7 linked regions of the Homo sapiens genome follow. The protein of the gene in region 5 purifies or fractionates together with the protein of the main gene of each other region. This does not show direct contact. Each region holds a gene or a part of one and is shown on either strand. Other genes may lie near its edges. The genes, in order: EDC3, NADK, C10orf88, CCM2, INPP5K, ABHD10 and KATNA1.

Evidence for each region.
Region 1: the proteins of INPP5K (region 5) and EDC3 purify together in Homo sapiens (co-immunoprecipitation; one large-scale study listed by IntAct). This does not show direct contact.
Region 2: the proteins of INPP5K (region 5) and NADK purify together in Homo sapiens (co-immunoprecipitation; one large-scale study listed by IntAct). This does not show direct contact.
Region 3: the proteins of INPP5K (region 5) and C10orf88 purify together in Homo sapiens (co-immunoprecipitation; one large-scale study listed by IntAct). This does not show direct contact.
Region 4: the proteins of INPP5K (region 5) and CCM2 purify together in Homo sapiens (co-immunoprecipitation; one large-scale study listed by IntAct). This does not show direct contact.
Region 6: the proteins of INPP5K (region 5) and ABHD10 purify together in Homo sapiens (affinity purification with mass spectrometry; 2 studies listed by BioGRID and IntAct, with this or other methods). This does not show direct contact.
Region 7: the proteins of INPP5K (region 5) and KATNA1 purify together in Homo sapiens (affinity purification with mass spectrometry; 2 studies listed by BioGRID and IntAct, with this or other methods). This does not show direct contact.

The regions. Positions count from the first base shown.
Region 1 is NC_000015.10:74,686,025-74,689,524, reverse strand, and holds part of EDC3 (enhancer of mRNA-decapping protein 3), read left to right. Parts: intron 1-2,345; exon of another isoform or gene 2,346-2,434; intron 2,435-3,500. UniProt on the Homo sapiens protein: Binds single-stranded RNA. Involved in the process of mRNA degradation and in the positive regulation of mRNA decapping. May play a role in spermiogenesis and oogenesis.
Region 2 is NC_000001.11:1,754,471-1,757,970, forward strand, and holds part of NADK (NAD kinase), read right to left. Parts: intron 2,841-3,500; coding exon 2,711-2,840; coding exon of another isoform or gene 2,637-2,710; intron 2,413-2,636; exon of another isoform or gene 2,309-2,412; intron 2,188-2,308; coding exon of another isoform or gene 2,139-2,187; coding exon 2,033-2,138; intron 1,874-2,032; coding exon 1,788-1,873; intron 1,007-1,787; coding exon 904-1,006; intron 229-903; coding exon 74-228; intron 1-73.
Region 3 is NC_000010.11:122,940,728-122,944,227, reverse strand, and holds part of C10orf88 (ATPase PAAT), read left to right. Parts: intron 1-3,500. UniProt on the Homo sapiens protein: ATPase that regulates mitochondrial ABC transporters ABCB7, ABCB8/MITOSUR and ABCB10. Regulates mitochondrial ferric concentration and heme biosynthesis and plays a role in the maintenance of mitochondrial homeostasis and cell survival.
Region 4 is NC_000007.14:45,073,201-45,076,953, forward strand, and holds the end of CCM2 (cerebral cavernous malformations 2 protein), read left to right. Parts: intron 1-259; coding exon 260-371; intron 372-1,069; coding exon 1,070-1,208; intron 1,209-2,576; coding exon 2,577-2,857; 3' UTR 2,858-3,253; downstream 3,254-3,753. UniProt on the Homo sapiens protein: Component of the CCM signaling pathway which is a crucial regulator of heart and vessel formation and integrity. May act through the stabilization of endothelial cell junctions. May function as a scaffold protein for MAP2K3-MAP3K3 signaling.
Region 5 is NC_000017.11:1,496,845-1,499,612, reverse strand, and holds part of INPP5K (inositol polyphosphate 5-phosphatase K), read left to right. Parts: intron 1-1,490; coding exon 1,491-1,677; intron 1,678-2,768. UniProt on the Homo sapiens protein: Inositol 5-phosphatase which acts on inositol 1,4,5-trisphosphate, inositol 1,3,4,5-tetrakisphosphate, phosphatidylinositol 4,5-bisphosphate and phosphatidylinositol 3,4,5-trisphosphate.
Region 6 is NC_000003.12:111,989,026-111,991,446, reverse strand, and holds part of ABHD10 (palmitoyl-protein thioesterase ABHD10, mitochondrial isoform 1 precursor), read right to left. Parts: intron 748-2,421; coding exon of another isoform or gene 706-747; exon of another isoform or gene 696-705; intron 71-695; coding exon 1-70. UniProt on the Homo sapiens protein: Acts as an acyl-protein thioesterase that hydrolyzes fatty acids from acylated residues in proteins.
Region 7 is NC_000006.12:149,642,215-149,645,714, reverse strand, and holds part of KATNA1 (katanin p60 ATPase-containing subunit A1), read left to right. Parts: intron 1-3,500. UniProt on the Homo sapiens protein: Catalytic subunit of a complex which severs microtubules in an ATP-dependent manner. Microtubule severing may promote rapid reorganization of cellular microtubule arrays and the release of microtubules from the centrosome following nucleation.

The sequences.
Region 1 (3,500 bases), on a different chromosome or scaffold from region 5:
AAGAAATGGAGGGAGAAGGAAGACAAATAAGACTAAATGAACTTTGGTAGCAAGTTCTTGACTGAATAGTAATTCACAACATCTCTGAATTCAGTAGTCATTACAATTTTAGGAATAATTTATTGGGAGAATAACAGTATCAATGAAGCAAGAGTAAATAAGAAGTATGTTTAAGAAAATACCAAAACCATTGCACCCCACCAGAATGAGTAAGTTGAAGAGAACAATAGTACCAAGTTTTGGCAAGATGAGGAGCAGAAAGAACTCACGTATGGTGGGTTGTATAAATGTAGATGGTAATACAAAATGGTACAACCACTTTGGAAAACTGTTCAGTGGTTCCTAATAAAGTCATAAATATAACATGACTTCCTGTGTTATATGCCCAGTAGAAATGGATGTATTTGTCCATCGCAGAAATATACTGTATACAGTTTAAGAATATTATTTGTAATAAGTCAGAACTAGAAATAACCCAACTATGTATCAGCAGTAGAATGGATAAATACATTGAGGCATGCTTACAGAAAACAGCACAGCTATGAGAAAGAATAAACTTCTGATACATGCAACAATGGGGATGAATCTCACAAATGTACTTTTTTTTTTTTTTTTTTTGAGACAGCATCTCGCTCTGTCACCCATACTGGAGTGCAGTAGCAGGATCTTGGCTCACTGCAACCTCCGCCTCCCCAGTTCAAGCGATTCTTGTGCCTCAGCCTCCTGAGTAGCTGGGATTACAGGCATGTGCCACCACGCCCAGCTAATTTTTTGTATTTTTAGTAGAGACAGGGTTTTGCCATGTTGGCTAGATTGGTATTGAACTCTTGACCTCAAGTGATCCACCCGCCGTGGCCTCCCAAAGTGCTGGGATTACAGGCATGAGCCACCATGCCTGGCCTCACAGATGTACTTTTGAGCAAAAGAAGACAAACACTCTGAAAGAGAACCTTTATGATTCTGTTTATGTGAAGCTCAAAATCAGGCTCAAATAATCTTTCATGATAGATGTCAGAATAATAACTACCTGTAGGAGGACACAATGGAGCCTTTTGAGGTGTTGGAAATAGTCTGTCTTGTTTTGAGTGGTGGTCACATGGGTGAATTGATATGTAAAATTTCAGGGAGGTGTACACTTAAAATATGTAGACTGACTTACTGTATATGTTATACCTTGATAGAAAAGTAGAAAATAAAAGACAAGATTGGTTCCTTGTAGCTCCTGTATCTCCTGTACTTCTTTTGACGTGGAGGTGTTAGCTGTATAATTGATGGAGCCCCTTCCCTAGTCCGATTAGGAACCCAGTTGATGGGCACTGTACTTGTTTTAGATTTACTGTTTTCTGTAAATAGCATAATTTTCTTTATAGAATAAACCTGTTTGAGGAGTTTTGAATAATGCTATTTTACCAAGGGAAGTTTCTGAGGAAAGGGAAGTTTGTTACACATTCAGTGGTTATATTTTTAAAAGTTTCTATTAATATTAACTACATAGAAGAACACTTATAAACGAGTATCCACATTTTCAAAGTGTTAAAAATTCTATTCAGTTACTACTACCATAATATAAACTTGAATGCACAACATCAGTGTCTTAAAGATATATGTTAAATAAAACAGTAAAAGCCTTTTCATATCTGGTTAATTTCTGGTGCTTTTTATTCTGCATCTATCTAAGCATCTGAGTAGAATTATGATGGATTATAAATGATAGGAAAGGAAACTCATGCTTTTGTGACATTAGGCAAAGGTTGATCAGGAAGGGAAAAGAAGCCTAAAATGTGTGTATTTTGTGCTTTTTTACCATCATCATTATTGTTGAAATTGTGTTGCATTGAAAATTTACCCAAGGGCCAGGCACAGTGGCTCATGCCTGTAATCCTAGTGCAGAGGCTGAGGTGAGCAGATCACCAGAAGGCAGGAGTTCGAGATCAGTCTGGCCAACATGGTGAAACCCCATCTCTACTAAAAATACAAAAATTAGCTGGGTGTGGTGGCGGGCGCCTGTAGTCCCAGCTACTCAGGAGGCTGAGGAAGGAGAATTGCCTGATTGAACCTGGGAGGCAGAAGTTGCAGTGAGCCAAGATTGCGCCACTGCACTCTAGCCTGGGCGACAGAGCAAGGCTCTGTTTCATTCTATAATAAATGTAACAAAAAAAAGCCTGTATGAGCCTGCTAATTCATTGTTCTTTTAATCTTCGGTTCTGTCCGCATAGTTTTATGATACTGGCTCAGTTAGATCACTAGAGAACTATCTAGAGTTTGATTAATCCCTAGAGCTGGACTCTTTCAGACTTAGTGTTTCTAATGGGGCATACTGTTTTTTGTTTTTTTTTTTGAGACAGGGTCTTGCTGTGTTGCCCAGCCTGGTCTTGAATTCCTGGACTCAAGTGATGCTCCTGCCTTGGCTTCCCAAACTCCTGGAATTACAACTGTGAGCCACTGCACCCAGCCAGGAGTGCTTTATTTTTATTTATTTTTTATTTTTTTCTAGACGGAGTCTTGCTCTGTTGCCCAGGCTGGAGTGCAGTGGTGCGGTGTCGGCTCACTGCAGGCTCCGCCTCTTGGGTTCAAGCAGTTATCCTGTCAGCCTCCTGAGTAGCTGGGATTACAGGTGCATGCCACCATGCCGTCCACGTCGGCCTCCCAAAGTGCTGGGATTATAGGCGTGAGCCATTGCGGCTGGCCTGGAGGAGTGCTGTATATGCTTTTTTGCCCCTTTCCCTTCATTTATGTATTTATTTTGAGACAAAGTCTTGCTCTTGTTAGCAGGCTGGAGTGCAGTGGCGCAATTTCTGCTCACTGTATCCTCTGCGTCTTGGGTTCAAGTGGTTTTCCCACCTCAGCCTCCTAAATAGCTGGGATTACAGGCACCCACCACCACACCTGGCTAATTTTTGTATTTTTAGTAGAGATGGGGTTTCACCATGTTGGCCAGGCTGGTCTCAAACTCCTCAGGTGATCCACCTGCCTCGGCCTCTGAAAGTGCTGGGATTATAGGAGTGAGCCACCGTGGCTGGCCTATTTAATTTTTTTTGAGATGGAGTCTTGTTCTTGTTGCCCAGGCTGGAGTGCAATGGTGTGATCTCAGCTCACTGCAACCTTCGCCTCCCAATTTCAAGTGACTCCCCTGCCTCAGCCTCCCAAGTAGCTGGGATTACAGGCATGCACCACCATGCCCGGCTAATTTTTTTTTTTTGAGACCGAGTCTTGTTCTCGTTGCCCAGGCTGGAGTGCAATGGCACGATCTCAGCCCACTGCATCCTCCGCCTCCCGGGTTCAAGCGATTCTCCTGCTTCAGCCTCCTGAGTAACTGGGATTACAGGAACATGCCACCGCATTTGGCTAATTTTTGTATTTTTAGTAGAGATGGGGTTTCACCTTGTTGGTCAGGCTGGTCTCGAACTCCTGACCTTGTGATCCACCTGCCTCAGCCTTCCAAAGTGCTGGGATTACAGGCGTGAGCCACTGCGCCCGGCCAATTTTGTATTTTTAGTAGA
Region 2 (3,500 bases), on a different chromosome or scaffold from region 5:
GAAGGTCCTCATCCCTGGGACCGAAGTCGCCCCACCCTGGGCCCCTCACCGAGGCCGAGGCGCCTCCACTCACCTGGTACTGCATGGCCTGCTTCCCGACATCCATGTCCAGGCCTGCAGCCTGCGAGCCGTTCTCACCCAGCCCATTGTGCACGGCCGTCTTCTTCCCCCGGAGCTCCTTCACCACCCTGACCTTCAGCCGACTCCGGAGAACAACAGCTGCGTTCCCTGAGGTCCAGCAGGAGTCAGAGGGCATGCATCAGGGAAGTCAGTGGGGTCAGGGGCCCCACCCCAGGGAGGCCAGTGGGAGTCAGAGGGCTCTTTCTTCTCCCAAGTTGACACACTTCTGTGCCTTTTTCTTTTTATTTTGAGATGGAGTCTCACTCTGTCACCCAGGCTGGAATGCAGTGGTGTGATCTTGGCTCACTGCAACCTCTGCCTCCCAGGTTCAAGTGATTCTCCTGCCTCAGCCTCCCAAGTAGCTGGAACTACGGGTGCGCACCACCACGCCCAGCTAATTTTTGTATTTTTAGTAGAGACGGGGTTTCACCGTGTTGGCCAGGATGGTCTCATCTCTTGACCTCGTGATCCGCCCGCCTCGACCTCCCACAGTGCTGGGATGACAGGCGTGAGCCACCGCGCCCGGCCGACACTTCTGTGCCTTCTGAGAGTGAGAATCAGCTCACTTCTGCCCAACACACATGGCAGCTTCAACCTGTGATCTGCTGAAACTTCTCAGTGTCAGTAAAAGGTTTGAACCACTCAAGATTTAGAAATCCCTGAATCTTGAAACCTTTAAATGTTGCTCCATGCATCATTAAATGAAAATAAACCCCCCGCAAGCAAGCGAGACAGCAGCGCCATGATCAGAGCTCCTGTGGGCTCCAGAACATTCCAACTCACCCTCTATCACCTGAGTAACTTGGGACTGAAAGTTCTCAAAGCTGAATGGGGTCAGGAAGCCCAGGGAGCCCAGGTGGAAGGCCATGACCGGAGGGACGCTGCCCTGTGAGCCGACGGAGAGGTCACTCAGTGCCCACGCCGTGCACCCCCGCACCACCCAGCTTTCCAGCAGCACCTCAGGAGGGACCCAGCTCTGTGGGGACAGCACCCCGACCCTCTGCAGGAGGGACTGGCCATGTGGACAAGCGGAGGGGGACGTCGCAGGCCAGGGTGGGCCGGGCCACCAGGGCCAAGGTTGGTGTGGGGAGCTGGTGAGGAACAAAGGTGGCAGGGCTGAGCGGCCCCCTGGGCACGGAGGGCTGGGGGAGCTGGCGAGGGCGGGTGGGAGGCAGCCTTGGGGTCGGAGCCTCGCGCCCCACAGGTGCTAATGGGGAGATGGGGAGAAAAGCAGGGCGGGCTGCGGGCATTTCCGGTGTCACCAACATGCAGTGGGCCAAGGGCAGAGCCAGGGTCCCCCACACAGCGTGGCCCTACAGCCCCAGGGGAGAGCTGTGCTGCTGAGAAACCAGGAAGAGGAGCTCAAGGGAGGCCCAGAGGGGATGGGCCAGTAGGCGAGGTCGTTTCCCAGGACCCACCACCCTGCGCCACTCCCTGCTGTCCCAGGCGGGCGCTGGCCACCCCCAGCCGTAGCACTGTGTCCACACTGCCCCTGGCCCCACCGTCGCACCCCACCGGGCTGCCACCATGGGCCTCAGTGCTGGCCGCTCTAGGTGACTGCTCTCGTATAAAGGGGTGAAAAGCAATGGAAGCCATGCTTGTGAGCCCCTCGTTACGCAGCACCTAGACTAGAACCTGGTGTGGGTCTGGAAATGTCAGCGCTTCACCTGGAAAAGCGAGGAAGCGTACAGCAGCGTCCCGTCTCCCCCCAGGCAGATGATGAAGTCTATCTGATTGGAAATGTCATCATAATCTAGGAAACACAAAGCAAAACCAAGAAGAGGCTGTCACACAGTGGCCCCTCTGTGGCGCAGTGCGCAGACACCAATGACAAGGGCAACAGTGCCAGAAGCTTCCAATGGGGCGGGGAACTGTGCTGGAGAAACCAAGGACAGAGCTGCTGACAGCCCACCTTCTCGAAAGGTACAGAATTTCTTCTTCACTGCCCCAAAGCTTTCATCGCTGGCGATGGCAGGGTCTTCTAGCACTTTCTTTTCCACATACACGATCATGTTCTCCTGGAAGCAAAGTGCCAACCTGCTCATTCCACCTGCAGACCCCACCCTCCTGCAGGGAGGTTCCCGACTCACGGGCGCTGTGGTCAGAGACCTGGCATCGTGGCCTGCATGCCCGCCCCCCCACGCTCACGCTGAAACTTCATCACCAACGCGCCAGGAGGAAGCAGGACCTTTAAGAGATGACTGGGCGGAGGGGGCTCCCTCTCAGGAATTGACTAAGGCTGTTATTTCAGGAGTGGCTTTCCTGGGCGCCGCAACCCCCACGCCTGCTCTTCTGAAGAGAAGACACAGCAGGAAGGCCCACGTCAGATGTGGCCCCTTGATCTCGGACTTCCCGGCCTCCAGGGCCACGAGCCCACCAGCTCATTGTTGGTCACCCAGTCTGGTGCTTGCCATGGCGGCACACACAAACCCAGACACCCGGCAGATCCCCACTCAGTCCCCAGTTCCAGACAAGCAGCCGTTGCCCAGCACTTGAGGTGGTTCCCATGGTCTCACGGGGCGGTGATGTGGATGGAGGCCCCCCCAACTCCATGTGCACCCCAGGCCCCCTTCCCCCCTGCCCCGCGTGCCTCCATGAGGTGCGTGCAGAGCTCCTTGAACGGCTGCAGTAGGCTGGCATCTCTCATCTTCTTGATGACAAGGACGCTCTTTGGGGACTTGTTCCACGTCAGCCGCTGGCTCGCGGGGTCCTGAATGTGCCTTTAGGGGAGGAGAAAAGAGTTCACACCAGCTGCGATCTCCCTCTTGCGGAAAAGGTGTATGACTTAGAAAATAAAAAAAAAAATCTTTAAAAAGGTGTTTTCACCTCCCAGGGAAACGTGCTCGGTGGCCACGGGCTCACAGGGCCTAGGGTCGCGCCACAGAGACAGGGTCAGGGGTCAGTAGGGTCCGGAGTGACCACCTCTCACCTGCTTGGCCCATCACACGCAGGCTCAGGCCCACAACCCCCACCCGGGCACCACGCTGACCCAAGTGCACGCACCACAGCCCTTCCCAGCCCCCGGCCACTTGCCTGCCTGGCTCCTCAGTGACGCTGGTGGGGCAGAAATGACCACGAAAGCCCATGGCTGGGCCACTCTTTGCTTGATGCCCTCCTCAGGCCCCCACGAAAACCCAAACCAGTTGACATGGTGACTCTGTCCCTAGGATCCTCTGCACACAGTTTCTGGCCCCACGGGAGCCCAGGACCCCTCAAGGACCCGCTTCCCCCCCTGCACACAGCTCACTACCTCCCTGCATGAACGGACTTTAACCTCACTCACTCTCACAGTAAAAATCACAGGTTTAAAAGTCCGTGGCAGCCCTGACACAGCCACCCGCGCTTTGCTGGCTCTGACCCCGACCACTGTGCCCGGTGTT
Region 3 (3,500 bases), on a different chromosome or scaffold from region 5:
CCCTACAAAGGACATGAACTCACCATTTTTTATGGCTGCATAGTATTCCATGGTGTATATGTGCCACATTTTCTTAATCCAGTCTATCATTGTTGGACATTTGGGTTGGTTCCAAGTCTTTGCTATTGTGAATAATGCCACAATAAATATATGTGTGCATGTGTCTTTAGAGCAGCATGATTTATAATCCTTTGGGTATATACCCAGTAATGGGATGGCTGGGTCAAATGGTATTTCTAGTTCTAGATCCCTGAGGAATCGCCACACTGACTTCCACAATGGTTGAACTAGTTTACAGTCCCACCAACAGTGTAAAAGTGTTCCTATTTCTCCACATTCTCTCCAGCACCTGCTGTTTCCTGACTTTTTAATGATTGCCATTCTAACTGGTGTGAAATGGTATCTCATTGTGGTTTTGATTTGCGTTTCTCTGATGGCCAGTGATGGTGAGCATTTTTTCATGTGTTTTTTGGCTGCATAAATGTCTTCTTTTGAGAAGTGTCTGTTCATGTCCTTTGCCTACTTTTTGATGGGGTTGTTTGTTTTTTTCTTGTAAATTTGTTTGAGTTCATTGCAGATTCTGGATATTAGCCCTTTGTCAGATGAGTAGGTTGCAAAAATTTTCTCCCATTCTGTAGGTTGCCTGTTCACTCTGATGGTAGTTTCTTTTGCTGTGCAGAAGCTGTTTAGTTTAATTAGATCCCATTTGTCAATTTTGGCTTTTGTTGCCATTGCTTTTGGTGTTTTAGACATGAAGTCCTTGCCCATGCCTATGTCCTGAATGGTAATGCCTAGGTTTTCTTCTAGGGTTTTTATGGTTTTAGGTCTAACGTTTAAGTCTTTAATCCATCTTGAGTTGATTTTTGTATAAGGTGTAAGGAAGGGATCCAGTTTCAGCTTTCTACATATGGCTAGCCAGTTTTCCCAGCACCATTTATTAAATAGGGAATCCTTTCCCCATTGCTTGTTTTTCTCAGGTTTGTCAAAGATCAGATAGTTGTAGATATGCGGCGTTATTTCTGAGGGCTCTGTTCTGTTCCATTGATCTATATCTCTGTTTTGGTACCAGTACCATGCTGTTTTGGTTACTGTAGCCTTGTAGTATAGTTTGAAGTCAGGCAGTGTGATGCCTCCAGCTTTGTTCTTTTGGCTTAGGATTGACTTGGCGATGCGGGCTCTTTTTTGGTTCCATATGAACTTTAAAATAGTTTTTCCAATTCTGTGAAGAAAGTCATTGGTAGCTTGATGGGGATGGCATTGAATCTGTAAATTACCTTGGGCAGTATGGCCATTTTCACGATATTGATTCTTCCTACCCATGAGCATGGAATGTTCTTCCATTTGTTTGTATCCTCTTTTATTTCCTTGAGCAGTGGTTTGTAGTTCTCCTTGAAGAGGTCCTTCACATCCCTTGTAAGCTGGATTCCTAGGTATTTTATTCTCTTTGAAGCAATTGTGAATGGGAGTTCACTCATGATTTGGCTCTCTGTTTGTCTGTTGTTAGTGTATAAGAATGCTTGTGATTTTTGTACATTGATTTTGTATCCTGAGACTTTGCTGAAGTTGCTTATCAGCTTAAGGAGATTTTGGGCTGAGACGATGGGGTTTTCTAGATATACAATCATGTCATCTGCAAACAGGGACAATTTGACTTCCTCTTTTCCTAATTGAATACCCTTTATTTCCTTCTCCTGCCTAATTGCCCTGGCCAGAACTTCCAACACTATGTTGAATAGGAGTGGTGAGAGAGGGCATCCCTATCTTGTGCCAGTTTTCAAAGGGAATGCTTCCAGTTTTTGTCCATTCAGTATGATATTGGCTGTGGGTTTGTCATAGATAGCTCTTATTATTTTGAGATATGTCCTATCAATACCTAATTTATTGAGAGTTTTTAGCATGAAGGGTTGTTGAATTTTGTCAAAGGCCTTTTCTGCATCTATTGAGATAATCATGTGGTTTTTGTCTTTGGTTCTGTTTATGTGCTGGATTACATGATAATAACTCTTTTAATGGAAGATTTTAAAAAGGAAGCAATTGTTTGTGAACAAATTTTGGTAACGATTAGAGGATATTAATTAGTTTACTGTCTGATTATTTTAAAATCTTGACACTAGGAAAAAATGAAACTAGATATATTTTTATTTTGGCTGTGTCTTTAAATTTTTATAGTTTTATTTATAAATAATTTTTCTTTGCCATGAATTTTAACCAATACAGAAGTGTTAGGTAAAAATTAAAAATGTTTTCCAGCTGTCATTCTATACCCCAGAGGATACACAGCTAACAGTTTGGCGTGTATCCTTGTAGAGTTTTTTTATGCATGTAGCAACACAGAAGGCTCTCCCCCATGCCACCCCACCCTCAGCCAACACTCATGGGTTACTGCTATGTACACTGTACAATAACTTACTTTCTTCTCACCACTAATGCAGGGACATTTCTGGGACACCCTGGGGAAGAAAGAAGGTGATAAACAGTTCTGTGTCCTTTTAAACATGCTAATGGAAGACTTCCTTCCTAGTAAGAAAAGTCCTTATTTATGGAGTGATTCTTACAGGATGTACCTGGTTCTCTAGGATTGCTTATTGATGACAAACTAGGCATCTATACATTCTAAGGCATAGAGAATGTCATATAAGCTGTGTAACTTTCTGCACATAAAATGGGAATGTTTCATGACCAAATCAACTCCTTCCGTGTAAGTGGTGTGATCACACATGTTGTTTGGGCAGGACTTCTCTTGGGGGAAAGGAAGGACCTCAGAAGTTTTGGCTTCTCTCTGGCTTACCTGTGCCTTGGAATTACTTGTTTTCTCGAAAGTTTGATTAAAGTTCAACACGCCAAGTTTTGTGAGTCTGAAATGCAATCCAAACCTTTGTGATTTCTCAATAAGTATTAAGATTATTTTTTATTTCCTTCTATTTGAAGTTCAGTTTGCTGGCTTTGATTTGCTTTTGCTTTAGCAATTTAGAATTCTTGAATAGGAATTCTATATCAAAGGGTGTAGCATATGATTGTCATTTAATGTTATCTGAATGAAAGGATATGACCCATTTTCTCAAAGAAAACATATTCAGTTATTTAGGAGTTATACTCTTGCTTTTTTCTCCTTCAAAATAAAAATGACTTTATTATTTAATTTCTTTCTGATTATTAAAGGTGATACAAAAAAATTAAAAAGCAAAAAGGTATAGGAAATTCATACTTTCCTAAATCCTACAATATATTTAAAGATAAACTATTATTTTTTCAGAAATCTCTATTGTGTGTATACAGAATATATGTAGTTATACATATACACATACACATATCTTTGTAAGTATATGGACACAGTTCTCTCTAAATGCTTTCATACTGCATATGTTGCTCAGGAACATTTTTCACTTGAAAGGATATCAATAAATACAGCTTTCTATGGTTTTATGAATATTATGCAGTTACCTATTCATGGATATTTAAGTTTCTTCAAAATTTTTAATAGCATGTTAACAGTGGAGGCT
Region 4 (3,753 bases), on a different chromosome or scaffold from region 5:
GCCCACTGCCTTGACCTGTGTACTCCCTCTCTTCACTCAGAGCCCAACTCAGAGCCATGCCCCCGGGGAGCCCCAGGACCAGGCCAAGCTGACCACCCTGCATGCCCAGTCAGCTCTCCTCTCATCATCATCATCATCACTTACATTCCTCTGTTCAAGGACAGGGACCCACACACACGGCATGGACTAGGTTTCCTGAAACGTGTGTGGGATGGAGGGTCGGGGAAGCCACCCGCTCACATACCACATTCTTTCGCAGCTGCTTCCCTGAATCTGTGGATGTGGGTGGTGCATCACCCCACAGCAAGACCATCAGTGAGAGCGAGCTGAGCGCCAGCGCCACTGAGCTGCTGCAGGACTACATGCTGACGGTAGGCCTCCGCTGCAGGGACGCTGGGCTGCATGAGGGAGGGGGTGCCCCAGGGAGGATGGGGGGAAGGGGAGGAGGAGGAGGAGCAGTGCAGGGCAGGCTGCAGTGAGTGAGGTCACCTAGAGCACTCTTGGTCAATTTTGCTGACATCACTGCCTTTTCCTGGGGATAGTCTAGGAGAGCATCAGTCAGTGGGGCTGAGTTGGGAGTGCTGTGGCCGTCAGGGCTGGACTGTGGGCCTGTGCTTGGGTCCTGGGGGAGGGGAGGGAACGGTGGCCCCTGCAAGGCCACATGGCCAGACATTTTTATCCTCCCCATCTTATATAGTTCTGTCATTGCAAACTCAAGTCTTCCTGATTTGCCTGTGTGCCTGTGTGTAGCCTAAGGGCACAGGCATTGGCCCCGGGCCAGGTTGCCAACTTCCACCCTGCCCTGCTGGCTCCTGTCCCTCCCATGCACTCTGTGTTCCAGCTCAGGAGAGTGGAGCTGCCCGGGTGCCTTGGTCTCCTCTGGGTGGCCCCGTGCCAGGTCTGGTAGGATGGGGACACATTGTGGTCATTCTGATGCCCCAGCCTGTGCAGAGGTGAAGCCAGAGACAGCTGGTGCTCTGGCTGGGGTTAGTGGCTGTGGCAAGGTGGGCCCGACTGCCGACTCTTGCCTACTGTGCCCAGCCCCCTATCTGGCTCTGCTCTCTTGCAGCTGCGCACCAAGCTGTCATCACAGGAGATCCAGCAGTTTGCAGCACTGCTGCACGAGTACCGCAATGGGGCCTCTATCCACGAGTTCTGCATCAACCTGCGGCAGCTCTACGGGGACAGCCGCAAGTTCCTGCTGCTTGGTGAGTGGGCCCTGGAAAGAGGGTGGCTTGTCCAAACCTGGCTTGGAGAGGCTGATCCCTCCTGGGAATGTGCACACGGACCCCTCAGTGGGTGCAGCAGGGGCTCCATCAGGGATGGGAGATTTGAACCAGAGATGGCATGAGAGCAGAGTCCAGAGATCGGGGAATCTGCTGTGATTAGTCAGAAGGGCTTTTCCCAGGTACTGTTGGGGGCCCACCGACAGGCCTTCATTCTCCTGGGAACTCAAGCTGAGCTGGGTGGGCCCTGCCAGGAAGTAGCAGAGATCCCCCAGGAGCAGGGCTGGGAGTGAACACAACCCTGAGATTTAGGAAAACAGTGCTGGAGGAGCCAGAGAGGCATGGGTTTTGGTGAATGTGTAGGACTTCAAGGCGGAAGGACCAGCGTTTGCCAAGACCCCTAAAATGCTCGGCACATTAGGTCAGTGCGGCTAGAGGGCTGTGTGGTCTGAGCAGCAGAGTTGGATGTTGGCCCCACACCTCTCAGGGGCGGTGACTTAGCTGTGGTTTCCCTCTGCCGACACTTAGAACACAGCAAGTTTGCGGTAATGTGTTGCTAGTAGCCAGTTGAAGGCTTCTGGGTCCTGGCCTGTTTTCCCTGCAAACCAAGGAAGGTGGGTTTGTTAACCATCGTACCGACCTGGCAGTGGCAAACGTGGATTGCCTGCCCAGGGCTCCCCGCTCTTAGGAGCGTGAAGGGCTGGAGGCTGGGGCAGCCTGTCTGTACAATAGGTTCTGTCTAAGCAGTGCCTGCCCCTTCTGTGCTGGGCCCTGCGTTGCCTCCTGGCATGGGACTCTGTCTGCCCCTCCACATCGGGGAGTAGAGATTCTGAGAGACACACTAGGCTTCCCAAATAAGAGGGCAGCCCTCTGAGTTGGGACAGTCACCTAGGTCATGGCAGGGAAACTGGACTTTGGCATGAGGCCTGCCTCTGAGGACTGCACCCTTGTTGCCGGGTGCCAGCAGGTGGCTTTGAGCACTGCTCTGGGCCTCAGCTTTCCCCACTGTAAAATGGGTCCTTTGTGAGGACTAATAGAGAATGAGAGGAGGCCACAGGTTCTTGGCCTGTGCTGGTGCCTTGAGGCCAGGGAGTGTGCATGTGGCAGAGGCAGTAAGCTGTCAGGGCCAGCAGCAGTGTCTGTCAAGAGTTGAGGTTTTAGCCAAACTGTCTGGCCCCAGGAAGCATGATTTCAACCAGGATGCTAGATGCAGTGAGCATGGCATCAGGGTCCCCAAGGCCATGCACCAGGGGCAGCTGTGGCCCTGTCAGGGGGCTTTGAGCCCTGAGAGAAGAGCTGAGTGGGCTGAGCCGAACTGGAGGTGCCATGCTGGGTGTTGTGTGTCTGCAGGTCTGAGGCCCTTCATCCCTGAGAAGGACAGCCAGCACTTCGAGAACTTCCTGGAGACCATTGGCGTGAAGGATGGCCGCGGCATCATCACTGACAGCTTTGGCAGGCACCGGCGGGCCCTGAGCACCACATCCAGTTCCACCACCAATGGGAACAGGGCCACGGGCAGCTCTGATGACCGGTCGGCACCCTCAGAGGGGGATGAGTGGGACCGCATGATCTCGGACATCAGCAGCGACATTGAGGCGCTGGGCTGCAGCATGGACCAGGACTCAGCATGATGGACAGTGGATGGGGGGGCACCCACACCTTCCGCGCAGTCGTCATAGGCCTTCCCAGAAGGAGCTGCCCAGACCTGCGTGTCAGCCCTTGGTGGTGGCCAGGGAGAGGCGCCCGGTGCAGATGGCCCCGGGCGGCCCAGGTCCTCTACTGTGAAGGAGCAGGGAGCTGCCGAGGGACACGAGCCTCAGTGCGGGGTGGAAGGCTCTTTGCCTTGTCCACCAGGGCTCAGCCAAGCCCTGCAGTGTGTCCCCGCTCGGGGAGGGCCCGGCCGAGCGGGCAGGGAGAGCCAGTCCTGTCGGCTGGGCCCTTGGACGGCTGTCAGTTTTGCACATGATGTTCCTATTGTAACTCTCAGAGACCTTAAAAAGAAGTTTACTGCAATGTGAATAATTTAATCTCTGGTTGCCAAGCATGTTTCTGATCCAGTTGGGTGAAAGCCATCGGTGCCAGGAGGGGTGTCCGCTCTAGCCTCTGTCCCTGGGTCCCCATCTGCCCTGCAGCACCTGGGACTCGGCAGTGGTCCCTGGGGGCTGGGGTGGAGGAGGCAACAGGCTCTTGTGCCACAGGAAGGACTTGATTTGGACTTGAGCAGTGTGGATGTGGGGCAGGAGCGGGTGTTCTGAGGCCTTTCGTGGGCAGCGTGTGTGAGGGTAGCGTGTGTGGCATGTGTTGGGGGCACCTTGATCTTTACATCCTGTGCACTGAATCCTTCAAGGTCACTGGCTGTGCCCCGCACCCCCCCTCCCCCCAACCCCATGCTGCAGGTTTTTTCCTCAAGCAGCCTGCACTACCCCGTGGAACAGAAATGCTCTCTGAGATCTCGTCACCTTGGAGCCTGGGGGCTGGGTCTTCAGAGGCCAGTGTGCAACTCTGCCGACCCTCCCTGTGCCGTCAT
Region 5 (2,768 bases):
CAGTTACCTAGAGGAGGAATGCATTTTGTCTCCGGAGCGTATTACCTTTTCCAAACCCCTCAGGGAAACTGGCAAGTGAAGAACAGGTGGGAGGTCTCTCAGTCGACTCCTTTTTTTTTGGAGATAGAGTCTTGCTCTGTCGCCCAGGCTAGAGTGCCGTGGTATGATCTCAGCTCACTGCAACCTCCGCCTGCCAGCTTCAAGCAATTATCTTGCCTCAGCCTCCCGAGTAGCTGGGATTACAGGCACCTGCCACCATGCCTGGCTAATGTTTGTACTTTTAGTAGAGAGTCAGGATGGTCTCGATCTCCTGACCTCATGATCCACCCACCCTGGCCTCCCAAAGTGCTTGGATTACAGGCGTGAGCACCGCGCGCGGCCTCTCAGTCGACTCTTGAGAGGAAATCATAAAGGCCAGTGTGCATGGCGAGCTCGTTTTGCACCAAGCACTGTGCTAAACATTTTATGTACTTTATCTCATTGACTCATCCTAGCAACCCTTCATGGTAACTACTGTTATTCCCTCCACTGGCAGGCGAGGAAGTTGAGGCCTGAGAGAGGTTAGTTTAGTTTGGTGGTTAAGAGCACATGCTCTGTGGTCATGCTGGCTGGCCCTGAATCCTGGCTCCACCACTTAGTACCTTGTGACTTTGGGAAAGGTGCTTCCCCTCTAAGCTAAGTCTCAGTTTCTCCACCTGTAAAGAGAGCATGATACACCCAGGCACAGTGGTCCATGCCTTCTAATCCCAACACTTTGGGAAGCTGAGATGGGAAGATCCTTTGAGGCCAGCAGTTCAAAACTAGGCTGGGAAACATACTGTCTTTACAAAAAAATGTTTAAAAATTAGCCAGGCATAGTGCCACGCACTTACCGTCCCAGCCACTCAGGAGGCTGAGGTGGGATCGCCTGAGCCCAGTAGTTTGAGGCTACAGTAAGCTGTGATGTCACCACTGCACTCCAGCCTGCATGACAGAGCAAGACCCTGTCTCTTTAAAAAAATAAAATTAAATTTAAAAAAAGGTGTGGTAACAGTACTGATCACAGGCATCCTCTGGTAAGCATTTCCTAAATGCTTCCCTTCCCTTTCCTGAGGCATACTTCTAGTATGCAGGGCAGCCAAATACAAGCTCAGGTGTGTCCAGCCTCAGAATCTCAAACCTCAGCTGCTTTGATCCACTGCTGCTTTTGCTCAAGAAAGAAGCAAAGCTTTGAAATGGAATGTTTCTGAGTCACAATTTGATCCATAAAAACATGAGCTAGACATACAGAGGGTCCTGGCTAAGTCTGACAAGTGCTGGCATACTTTGGATTCTGTTAGGCACCTTCCTGCCTGCTGCCTTGCTCCCTCCGGCTCTGGCCCCGGGGGTCTGTGGCTGCCAGTAGTTGCTGGAGTTAGGGGCTCCAGCAAGCTCATGTGGGCTCATTTCTGCTCTTAGCCAACCCTTTCTTCTTTCCCCATTCTTCCTCTTTATGCCCCCTGCCCCTGCAGTGAGAAAAAACGCAAGCCTGCATGGACCGATCGCATCCTGTGGAGGCTGAAGCGGCAGCCCTGTGCTGGCCCCGACACTCCCATACCGCCGGCGTCACACTTCTCCTTGTCTCTGAGGGGCTACAGCAGCCACATGACGTACGGCATCAGCGACCACAAGCCTGTCTCCGGCACGTTCGACTTGGAGGTGAACTTCTGGGCTGCCTGATACTTGCCAGAGGAATAGCTATGCTGGCCACATCCCCAAGCCCTCCATCCCTGGATTCGAATGTCAGCCAGTCCCCCAGGGGAGACCTGTGGAGGCCATGATTGCCTTTCCTGCCAGGTCGGATATCCCAGCTCCTCTTAGGAGCCGTTGATGGCTCTGTCTGTCAAAACCGTGTTCAAACCCTTTGTGAAAAGGTTTCCATTTCCTTTGGGTATTCTCCCTTGGGGCTAATGAGTTCCATTAGGCTTATTACCCAATGTGAGAAGTAGGACTTCTTTTATTTGTCCTAAATCTATCTGGATCAAGTTGCAACGGGCGCTCCCTCCATCCCTGCGTCCTTGTATCTTGCTATCTGAATGACCAAGGTGGTGTTGGCCTCCTTCAGGCTGCTGCCCCTCAGCCTTCACGTTTTCATACAGGTTTACTGGCGTGTGTGTGTGTGTGTTAGGGTCTCGTTCTGCCGCCCAGGCTGGAGTGCAGTGGCGGTATCATAGCTCACTGAAGCCTCCACCTCCTGGGCTCAAGTGATTGATCCTTCCACCTCAGCCTCCCTAGTAGCGGGACTACAGGTGCACGCCACCACGCCTGGCTGTTATGTATTTTTTGTAGACACAGGGTTTCACTATGTTGCCCAGGCTAGTCTCGAACTCCTGGGCTCAAGTGATCCTCCCAAACTGTTGGGATTATGGGTGTGAGCCACCGTGCCTGGCCCCCGCTGGTATCTGCGTTGTGTTCTTGCACGTTCACAGCTGTTCTCACCAGAGCATCCCCCCATGTGGGGCTTTGGGTCAGATAAGGCGGGAGGCCTGAGAGCAGCTGCCTGGCCGCCTCCTTAAGCCTCTCAGCCGTGCCTCTGCTCTCCGCCATTCCTACCCCCCAGCGCTGGGCCCCATGGGATTCCGACAGGGCCAGCCACCCGCCGACTGGTGTTCGGCCCTCTTTCCTGATGGCCAGCCAAGGTCCGTTGGAGCAGCCCAGTGGAGTTCCATGCCCACCCCCTCTGGGTGCCCCACCTTCCCCACTATGTTGGAAGGGCACAGTGAGGAACACTTGGCCTCAGAGGAGGGAAT
Region 6 (2,421 bases), on a different chromosome or scaffold from region 5:
TATAAACTCCTTCTTCAGAGTATTTTGATGGCATGCTCCACACACCTTTCATCTCTACTTCCTTTTTTAGCTATTGGAAAAAGAAAGAAAAATAAAAGTATTTGTGACTTTAGGCAACATTAACACATGCAATAGTTTTAAGTAATCTAATGAAAGCAGTTCTTGAATAAGAGGATAGAGATAACAAAAGTATAACAATAATAATTATCAATAATTACTACATGCAAGGTACTGTGATGGGTATTTTATACATATTATTCCATAAGATTCTGATAATAATTCTGTTATTATTCTATTTTTATAAAAGAGGATATTATGGTTTAGATAAATGAAATACTGTGTGCAACAGTTCAGGGCTAGGCTACTAACTGTTATGGCTAAGACTCAAACTTAAATTTAAATTTATTTAATTTTATCATACACTATCTCAAATCAGATGTTGCTTCACCCCAACTGAAAAGAAAAATGAAGAGGGAGAAAAGCACTACAATTTCTTGGAATCAGTCCAGGTATCATTCATATTTAAATAAAATCAAATCTTAGAATAAACATTGTTTAGATTTCAAAATTGTAAACCTAAAAGTGCTTATAAGTAGCTAAAATGGATATGGCATAGGGAAAGAAGAGAAAGAATCAAACACAGAACTAAGAATAAAAAAATAAGAGTAATTACATTGTAACAATCATACACATACTCATGCAATTTTAGGCTGAATGTAAAGAAATATAGTTTTTCCTTCCAGAGTCCTATAAAAGAGAAAAAATTTGATTTTTGTTCTGGATGACAAAGAAGTCTTCCACATACTTCCTGAAAGCCAAACAATAATATCTGTATATTTATTCCCTTAAAATGAAATATACATGTCCTTTGACTTTTTGAGAACTCTTATTTTTTATATAATTTATCTTAATTTTTCTAAAAAAATTAGAATTTTGTATAATGAGTAACATGCAGTCATTATAGAAAACATAAAAATAATTAAAGAAATAAATCACCCATAATCCTATCTTATGGAGAGAAAAACCATTAATATATGGCTTATTTCCTTCCAATATTTGTCTATATGTGTTTTGGTTTTTGTGTAATATGTAAAATACATACATATTACACATTCATATACAGTTTTCTATGCTGTTTATTTAGTACATATATTTCTGGGTTTAAAAAATTCTATGAAAAGGTTTTAAATGCTGCACAGCAGTCCACCATAATTGACTTAATTAGTTTGACCATCTCATACTGTGGTATTGTCATGAACACTTTTGAGCATAAAAGTTTATTTATATATAATAGATTATTGGAAAGATGATCACAGCTTAAAACTAAAACAAAAATCAAGCTATGAATAGTTTCAAGACTGTTACAATCATATAATATTAAGGGCATTTCTAGAAAAATGGAATGGACATCTTATCAAAAATTTTAAAAAATAAGGAAAGAAAAGCTACACATATTTGAAAAATTTAAAGTTTCAACAAATATACTATGATTTTCCCATGTTTAAAATTGTTAATTTATTGCAAATGTAAAAAGGAAAACAAGAACTTAAAAAATATGTATGACATAATATAATCTATATGTACTTAGGCTTTAATGTATTTTTAATTCCAAAAAGACTTAATAATTCAGTAAAAAAAAAACTGTACTTCTAAATATGTCTCCAAATGATTTAAAATTAATGAAATTCTACAAAACTATAAAATGTATATAAATCTATATCAATATCATGGCATTCTCTGTATTAAAACAACATATGAACCAAATATTTAAAGTAAAGATGACATTTAGCTATCCTCAAGCTACTCAGGATTGTTTCTGAATTTGTAAATACTTCAGCAGATAGAACTTAGTCCCACTGGTTATTAGCTGAAGTGGAGGCTTTGCTAATTAAGGCGACACTGAATTAATAATAGTTTCATTTTAAGCATCCCTGGCCCCCAACTAGCTCTGCTACCTGCCACTGAATTGAATGAAAATGGTCCATCTGAAGAACAAAGTTAACTTTATAAAATGTTGTATGTCTCAAGTCCTCAAGAACAAAAAGTTCAGAAACAGCAAAGACATTACCCAAAGAAAATGTACAATATATTAAGTTCTACATCAACAAAACTTATCAAGGCAATGTGGTTCAGAAGCTTACATTCCCAACAGCTGTGCATCATGTCTGAGGCCCTCTAGTGTCCAAAGAAGGTGATAATGATTAGAGTCAGTTAAAGAGGATGGTCAAGTTCTTAGAGAAGAAATGAGAAATGCTGGGCTTACTATTCCCAGGGTTATAAAAGATAGTAAAAATCTCCACATCTGCTCCGTTGACATTGTTAGGGCTAGCTGTTTATGTGGAGAAGAGATAGCGGTCTTAGTGTTGGTGCTCTTTCCTTATACATGCTTTTAAGTTAACCAAGGGCTCAACATGCTTCTGT
Region 7 (3,500 bases), on a different chromosome or scaffold from region 5:
AACTCATAAATACTCAAGGCATGTAAGCAAAAGGGTGGTTCTGTTAGAATAATGTAAAGGAAAAACTTGCTGTGAATAAAGCAGGCATAGTGTATGGTTATCCTTCTCTCTAATAATCTGTGTAACCAAGAGCCTGAATTTTGGGGCAATCTCATCTTTATAAGTGTTCTATTAATGTTGAACCAATAGATTGTGTTTATAGTTCATGGTGCTTACACTGAGTCAGTCAGCTTTTTTTTCTTTCTTTTTTTTTTTTTTGTTTTTTGTTTTTTGAGATGGAGTCTTGCTCTGTCGCCCAGGCTGGAGTGCAGTGGCGCGAGCTTGGCTCACTTGCACGCTCTGCCTCCCGGTTCATGCCATTCTCCTGCCTCAGCCTCCCAAGTAGCTGGGACTACAGGCGCTGGCCACCACGCCCGGCTAATTTTTTGTATTTTTAGTAGAGATGGGGTTTCACTGTGTTAGCCAGGATGGTCTTGATCTGACCTGGTGATCCACCTGCCTCGGCCTCCCAAAGTGCTGTGATTACAGGCGTGAGCCACTGCGCGCGGCCAGCTTTTTATTTCAAATGGATTCAATTCTTCAAATATTGCCAGATATTGTGCTTAATACAGCCAGTTTCTAGTCTTCCTGCAGTGGAATTTTAGCAATGATAAAGATATATTGTTGAAAATTGGGATAATTTCATAAATTTACAGTTGTGACATTCGAGAAGGATGTTTTGGGCTTAGAGAGTAATAAGGGAATGGGGAAAATTATTTTCGGCTAACAATTAGGGAACTAAGAGTGCTTTAATACTATTTTCTGCAAGCACATTGTTTCTTTGATAATCAGGGATTTTTCAAGTCATTTGTTAATGTGGCCTTGGATTAGACTTTACATTCATGTTTGTTAGAAAATATCAATTCATTGGCTTCTAAAGAATTTTATCTGACTAGAAAGAGTTCAAAACATGGAACCTTTAAAGAAGGCTTGGAGGGACTTGTATGAGTTTTGGGCCGTTGAATCATGGCCCTCAAGAAAAAAACGAGGACCACCTATATATAAGTAACAACTTAATTTAAATTTATTTTTATTTTATTTTATTTTATTTTTTTGATACAGAGCCTTACTCTTTTACCCAGGCTAGAGTGCAGTGGTGTGATCACAGCTCATTGCATCTTTGACCTCCTGGGCTTGGGTGATCCTCCCACCTCAACCTCCTGGTAGCTGGGACTACAGGTGTGCCCTGTCATGCCCAGCTAATTTTTTGTATTTTTTGTAGAGACAGGGTTTCACTATGTTGGCCAGGCTGGTCTTGAACTCCTGGGCTCAAGCAATCCTCCCACCTTGGCACCCCAAAGTACTAGGATTACAGGCGTGAACCACCATGCCTGACTATTTTAGATTTTTTTTAGTGGGAAAATGGGAAGAAAGATCTCCAGGGAGACTATTAAGGAAAAGAGGGAGAGAGGCTTTCATGTCAAAAGACATGAAAGGCTTTTGACATCCAAGCTCATCTAGAACAACTATATACTTTTAGCAGCGGGTCCCAATTATACTTTTCTAACACCCTTGCCCAGACTAGGTGTCTCTGTAGGGCATGGATGGCTTCAGGGCAGAAGTAATCACACAAGAATCAAGCTGTAATCCCAGCTTGGAAGGGATGAGCTGAGGATCAAGAATGTGACCATGCTGAGGGTCAGGAACTGGACAAGGTTACGAACTCTTGGTAGTTACAACAAAAACCTGGCCAGGCATGGTGGCTCACGCCTGTAATCCTAGCACTTTGGGAGGCTAAGGTGGGCTGATCGCTTGAGCCCAGGAGTTCAAGACCAGCCTGGGCAACATGGTGAAATCCCCATCTCTACAAAACATACCAAAAAAAAAATATATATATATATTAGCTGGGTGTGGTGGTACACATCTGTGGTCCCAGCTACTCAGGATCAGTTGAGCCCAGAAGATCAAGGCTGCAGTGAGCTGTAATGGCACCACTGCACTCCAGCCTGGGCTGCAGAATGAGACCCTGTCTCAAAAAAAAAAAAAAGGACAACAACTAGGCAGTATTCAGTCATTCAAAGGTTGATTGAGATCTACATTTGAGGACATGGTTCTAGGTGCTAGAGATGTATCAGTAAATAACAGAGAGATATGGTCCTTGGCCTTTAGGCTTTTATTAAGATAGAATATGATCAGTGGTCATGAATCCAGGGAGGCAAGATTTAGGTGATAGGATTTTATTCCTTTTCTTTTGGAGCTCAGATGCCCAGTCTTGAGTTACTCATAGACCTTAGTTCATAGCTATATTGCTTCATAACAGATTATCCCAAAACTTGGTGACTTAAAACAACAGACATTTTTTATCTCTTTCACTGTTTCACTGGGTCAGGAATTTGGGCATGACTTAGCTGGATGCCTTAGATTCAGGGTGTTTCTCAGAGCTGTGATCAGGTATTGGCCAGGCCTGTAGTCATCTCAAGGCTCTAGTGAGGAAAGATTCACTTCTGATCTCACTCACATGGTTGTTGGCAGGATTCAGTTCCTCAGGGGCTGGTGGACTGAGGGTCTCAGTTCCTCACTGATTGTTGGCCTGGATCCTGCCTCAGCTCTTTGCCACATGAGCCTCTGCCCAGGCAGCTCACTCTGTGGAGCTGGTATTCCATTTGAGTGGGGCCAGCAAGAGACAGCAAGCAAGATGCAAGTCATAGTCTAATCTCGGAAATGGTATTATGTTATTTGTTACAGGCACACATTCAAGGGGTAGTAATTATATAAGGGTACAGATACCAAGAGGCAAAGGTCATTGAGTGCCATCTTAGAGGCTCCCTATGATTATCCATGGATATAAGGCCCTTCTTTTGTTATATTTATTTTTTGTTTCTCTCCTACTTGTCATAAGCAATTTCTCCACTCACATATTTTCCTCCTCACCTTCCATAGACTCTCTAATATATTTAAGGTACTTTCTTGGATATGTATGCATCCTTTAAAAATGAGTATTTTATATAGCATATGTATTTTTAATTTATAAAATGACATTGGGATTTAGATCTTGTTCTATGTCTGAGACCTTTTTTTAGCCAACCCTGTATTTTGATGATCCATCCATGTTGCTATATGTAAATTTTATTCATTGCTTCTGTCTGCTACATGGTACCATGTGGTCTGTATCCACCATATTTCCCCTAGCAGGGAATAAATAGATTGACTCTACTTGATTTCTCAAAGATTTCTGTCATTAATGTCCAAAACCAAGTTCCTTTGTGGATCTGTGTGAGACTTTCTCTGGAAGATTTACACAAGAGTGGGATTGCTGGGTCATGGGGTGTATATATACATATATATGTGTGTGTATGTGTGTGTCTATGTACATATACATGCATACATAATTTCCCCAAGTACTGCCAGATTGCACTCCAAAATGACTATGCCAGTTTATTCCTGCAAATTGATGTAAAGATTTCCTTTTTCCCAAATCCTTGCCAATACTTAGTATCATTGCTTTTTTGAGTCTGGTAAAT